2 separate regions of the Homo sapiens genome follow, and region 2 is linked to region 1. Evidence: fine-mapped QTL for protein levels in blood plasma. A gene starts in region 1. The other region holds a variant in brackets. All regions are shown on one strand. Distances are between the middles of the regions. Region 1 holds the start of TF (transferrin). Region 2 overlaps TF (transferrin).

What was found. PIP is the posterior inclusion probability: the model's chance that the variant is causal. Protein levels are from antibody-based Olink assays in UK Biobank. Linkage for the fine-mapping came from a reference panel and not from the study's own genotypes, which makes the PIPs less certain.
Region 2: its variant is fine-mapped to the plasma level of the TF protein (UK Biobank, PIP above 0.99).

The regions. Positions count from the first base shown.
Region 1 is chr3:133,744,835-133,747,746 of GRCh38, reverse strand. TF (transferrin) reads right to left here and starts at 1,354. Exons shown (of 17, transcript NM_001063.4): 1 at 1,264-1,354. The coding sequence starts at 1,306.
Region 2 is chr3:133,769,691-133,772,602 of GRCh38, reverse strand. It overlaps TF (transferrin), which reads right to left. Exons shown (of 17, transcript NM_001063.4): 14 at 2,031-2,095. Among named protein-coding and RNA genes, the nearest start is that of TF, 25 kb to the right of the region's middle. The variant T/G (reference allele first, on the strand shown) is at 1,113.

The DNA.
Region 1 (2,912 bases):
TTTAGGAAGAACTAAAAACTCCACAAATTCAACAGTCTCCCCTCTGTCTCCACTGAACTATCCCTCCATTTTCACCACACTTTTTGGCTGCCATTCACAAAAAAAGCTGAAGCCAGCCATGGGTAACTATTAAAATCCATGTGGTTGCAGAGACAGCATCCCTATCACATGAGCTTTTGCCCTGTCCCCAAGGCCCTCTGTCATCTCCACTCCTTGTGGGCCACCACAGCAAGGCTGACTCACTGGCTCTGAAGAAGATCCACAAAGCCTGTGGAGAGGAGGCCCACAGCTCTCCAGGATGCATGAGGAGGGGCCACCAGGGATGGCCACCCCAGCGACCCCCATTTTCCCTCTTGGCCCATGGGAAATCCTAGGAGGCAACATAAGCCTGTGGCAGCCCCTCCACAAAGCCCTGCCTCCAGAGTTCCCATAGGCGAGAATGTGTCCTCAGTGGAGCATTACCTTGCACAGCCTGTGAAGTGCTCTGTGCGGGGATAAAGGCAAGTAACGTGGGGTCCTCTCTCAAGGAATTGCTAGCTTATGGGGAGAGAAAACTAAACGTGGAAGCCCCAACAGTGTGACAAATGCCCCATGAATGGCAGGCAGAAGTTAGAGTATGAAGGGGGCCCCACCTCAGGAGGTCGGGGAGTGTGGCGTCAGCCACTGCCCCATAGCAGGATGTGTGCAACATCTGCCACTGGTACTCAGCATCTGCCACCTCGCTGACCCTCATTTGACCCTCCCAGGCAAGTGCTGTGATGACCCCCTCCCTGGTGAGGAGCCGGCCAGGACTTGGATCCAAGAAGTCTGGCTTCAAACCCCATGCTCTGACCGCTCGATGGCACCGCTTCCTTGGCAGGACATCTACAGCTCCCAGGGCACCCAGGGGACATCAGCCTCTGAAAGGGGAATGGTCAGACCCGGGAGGCCTTGAATGCCATGCTAAGGAGTTCGGACTTGACAAGAGGCAGCAGCAAAGGGTTTTGATAACCTGGTTAGACGTGCTCTGATTTATTGTATTTCACTGCTGCAAGATTTACTGGACAAAGAGGAGGAGGGGGAGAAGACAGTGAGTGCAGTGAAAGGTGTCTAGAAGCCCAAGCAAAGGCCAGGGGTGGGGCGTAGAGAGGCAATGGAAAGGCACCCAGACACCCAGGCTTCCAGCCTGAGCGCGGAGTGCATGCAGGCTGCGCGGTGGCCGCCCGGGTTGCAGGGAACGCGCGGGCCAGCGACTCTGCGGTGCTACCCCGTGCCCGCACTCACCCAGGACGGCGCAGACCAGCAGGGCTCCCACGGCGAGCCTCATCTTCCGGGTGCGGCGCTGAGCAGCGAGCACAGTCGGACTCGCTTCTGTGCAGCCTCCGGCGCCCCGCGTCCCTTTATTCCATTCCCGGCCTGGGCGGGCTGGGCGCAATCTTTGACCTCCCGTGTTTGTGCAGCCGGGTTGCCCAATCGCCCCTCTCCCAACCCCCCTTCCTTACTCGTCCCACTGATCACCTCATTTTCTGAGCTCTGGAGACGACCCGCGAGTGGAAGGAGTCCAGCACAGAAATGTTGATGGGAAGGGACATGAAGCACAATGCAGCCATTGTCATCGCGGCTCGCTCGGTGCCAGGAGCGGCTACGGCGGGCTGGGAGCCGGGGGGCTCTGCTCCTGACTCCAGGGCTGCAGAGCTGGTCCGTGCCACCAGTCCTATCTGCGCAGTCCACAGAGGAAGACTCCGAGGCTGGAGAGGGAAAAGAACTGCGCCCAGACCCCACACTAGAACTGCAGAATGACAGGCAAAGCCCCTTTTGGGGGAGGATGCAGGAGAAACAAGCTGGGCTCAAGGTCAAAGACAGACTCAGCACCTTTTGCTCCCCACCAGGTGTCCCTCGAAATCCTGCTCCTGGGCTCTCAAAGGTCCCCCACGGAGGAGCTGCTCCCTCTTCCTGCCCCGCTGAGCTCAGGCTCCTGGGCTGGAAAACTTCCCGCCCTCAAGCTTCCTGTGGGACACCTTAGACTAGGGACAGAGTCATAGGGGAAGATGAACTCCCTCCAACAAGAAGGTTCCAGGAACATGGTCAAGACACTGTGAGGCTCAGAACAAAGTGTCATCTTAGCACAAAGCAAGCGGCCCAGTGGACGGTGTGGCCTGTTCTTACAGCCTGGGGCCACCATGTCCCCCTCTAGTCGATGAGTCTCCTAACCAGTTTAATTACACATCCTTATCATGAAAAATATTGAACTTGTGCCTTCTATATGCTTATATTTTAACTAAAAAATGTGTACACTTCAATCATGCACAAGGAATAGAAATTTGTAAAAGGATGAGCTAAAGATGAAACTCATTTTCAAATGTCGTTTTGCTTATGCGGCCTTATACAGGATTATTATCTCAAGGCATAATATACTTGGGGAAAGGTCAAGATTCCTTCCACGAAGTGTAAATCCAGACTTCAGAGATTTTGCCAAAAGTTACTTCTTATCCAACCTGACCAGATGGTCATTCATTCTGTCTCATGTTTTAGTTGACCAAGCTCATATCAAGCCTAGTGGACACGTCAGGTCAGTCATTTGATTTTTGTTCACTTGTTTTTGTGTTGTCAGAATTGTCTCCTAATTCTAGTTTCTTTGTAAGAATCTTTTTAAGGCATGTGTGCATCTCGTGAAGGTTGGAGTTAAAGCCAGATTATCTAATCTGTACATCCGTTTAACTGGGCACATACAAACCACAAAGTATGGAAATAAAAATGCCAAAACAAAGGGCAGGGTCGGCACTCCCCTTTTCACCTTTAGCATTGTGAGGTGAACCCCATCTTCCCTTAGGACACCTGAAAGGCTCCATCTGTCATGACTGCAGACTCAGGTGGGAGATAGGGCCAATTCACACATTCAATATGAATGAATGATAATTTGTTAATCTTTTGCA
Region 2 (2,912 bases), 25 kb before region 1:
AGGGAACGTTGACAGAAAGATGAGGACAGTTGAGTTGTATATGGATTGTATATATACAACTACAATATATGAGGACATCCATATACACACGTAAAAAAATACAATTGCAATGCCAATGTACTCTCTACATAAAAGTGACACCTTGGGAAATAGACTGGAATGGAATTGAGATTGGATGTCAGGCCTCCTATCTTAATTCTATGCAGGAGGGAAGAATTTTTGAGTCATTGCAAAGAGTAAGAGAGTCAAAGCTTAAAGAAGGGAGCTCTACTCAGAAAAGTACCAAAAGAAATCAAGGGTGGCAAAGAGCCAAGCTTAGGGTAACACTCTCTTAAAGGAAAAAGCAATAATACGAGGGAAGAAAGGAAAATTAGTCAACCCAATATTTCTGCAAACAAATTCTTAGCAACTGCTGTGTACTATGTGCTACACTAGGTTCTGGGAATATAAGATGAAGAAAAAGAGCTCAAAGAGTTTCTGTAGCCAAAGTGTATTACAGAGTGTGGTGAATTCAATCATAATGGCAATATGAACAGAGGAGTCTTCTTGTAGGACAGGGTATGCCATCTGGGAAGGCTTCCTGGAGGGGCTGGTGCTGAGCCGGTTCATTCTGGATGAGTTGCCCAGGAAAAGTGAGGAGTTGGGGAATGAACATGAGAGAAGGCAGGGAAGTATTCACAGCTTGAATTCCAGTGGGCTCTGCTAGCACTTAGTGATACTGAGGGGTCAGGTGTGGAGTGCTCAGTCTGGCCAATGTTTGTTTTGCTTTGTTTTGTTTGTTTTTATTAATATTATGGCTGTCCAACGTTCACCCACAAGTTAACACCCATTGATTCTTTTTTTTTTTTTTTTTTTTTTTGAGACGGAGTCTCGCTCTGTCGCCCAGGCCGGACTGCGGACTGCAGTGGCGCAATCTCGGCTCACTGCAAGCTCCGCTTCCCAGGTTCACGCCATTCTCCTGCCTCAGCCTCCCGAGTAGCTGGGACTACAGGCGCCCACCACCGCGCCCGGCTAATTTTTTGTATTTTTAGTAGAGACGGGGTTTCACCTTGTTGGCCAGGATGGTCTCGATCTCCTGACCTCATGATCCACCCGCCTCGGCCTCCCAAAGT[T/G]CTGGGATTACAGGCGTGAGCCACTGCGCCCGGCTTAACACCCATTGATTCTTGCTTGAATCAGTTATCAATATATTGGTTGCCAAGTGATAGTTTTCTAACTCTATCATTCCTTCCACATTGATTAGTTTTCCCTTCTTCATTTGTTTAATCAGTATTGCCTCATGCATTCTTATTTCTTTCAATGGGCTATTATCCCTTACTGCTATCATTATTTATTTTAATGCTCAAAATTCCCAGACTTGGCAACAGGAGATCCTTCAAATTGGTTCTTGTATGCTTTGAGTGTCCCATCACTGTTTGAGCACTTCAGTGTGTTGTTCTAGGCTCAGCATCTATTTTTCCTGCCCCAGCCCTGAAGTCAGCTATTTTTCCAAGGAGTTCTGGTTCCTTTTAGTAAAGAAGAGTACTTACAAGCCAATATCTTGGTGCTTACTCCTGCTGGTATGCCATTGCCTCTAGGCCTTCTCAATGGACACAACCCAGAAGTACAGTAAATAGCTATAAAAGGCATTACTGGGATAACTGACAACAGTTAAATGTGGACTGTGGACGTGACGAGTATTAAATCCACATAATGTAAAAGATCCTGATCTTGGTAATCATACTGTGGGTATGCAAGAGATTGTCTTATTCTTAGGAAATAGGCACTGAAGTATTTAGGGGAAAGGAGCACAAGGCTTGCAGCTGTGGGAGTGTGTGTTGGGGAGGATTTAGGGCCATTGGGGGCCCCATAATCCTGATCATTCTGCGCACTCAGGTGAACATGTCTCTCTTCACTGAGCAGACAGACTGAGAATCAGAGCTTTGAAGTCTGACAGTGTACATAATACTTCCACAAAGGCATCCCTGAATACAAGTGAATACCAGTGACCAGGATCTAGTGATCTAGGGGGACAGAGGAGCAGGTGCACTTACCCCCAGTGTTCTGTGGGACAGTCTGGTGTTTCACAAAGGCCACATCTCCCTTCTCAACCAGACACCTGCAGAGGTCCAGAAGTGGGAGAGAAAAAAAAAGGCGGTCAGAGTGACTTATCTGTCATTCAGGGGGCTACCTTATAGATTCAGGACAGCCATCTGAAAACAGCAACTGTAACTTCCATTCTAACAGTAAGCAATGTAAGGAATAAAGAGAACAAAAACAAAACACTCTGAATTGATTGTAGTTTTACAATCTCAGTTCCACATACTAAATCTTAATTTTTTGTACTGTTTCTCTGAGAGATGACATAATTTCCCTGACATCAACAAGGATAGTAGGGAATTGATTTTCAGTGAGGTGATGCCTCCCCCAGCATATGAATGAAAAACTCAGTTCCTTCAGGTTCTCATACAAGGCGAATGTCTAGGCAACATTTGTGAGAGACTGAAACTCCATCACAAATTGCAATTTGTGCTGTCCTTCATTCCTTTGAAAAAGAATTTTAACATTTATGGAGCATTTGCTATGTTGTGGGTTTTTTTGTTTTTGTTTTTGAGAAATGCAGAGAATATGGCAAAACATGGCATAAAGGCACCTGACTCTACTAACTCCCAGGCCACATATCTCTGGGTGTGGTAATGGGGGTTGTAACACAGCTCTGAGCTACAAGTCCCCAAGAAGTTTCAGAAAAGAAATAATAACAAAATAAACTCTGGTTAGTAGGGTTCTAATTTTAATTTTGACTGTCTTCCAGTCCTTTGAAAGGGCATACCACACAGATGATGAACTAGTGTGTACTTCAAAATCTACACAAGGCCCTCCTCAATGAGCCGAGTGGGTTGGACTTTTGGACAATGGACTGAACCCTGCTCTCCATG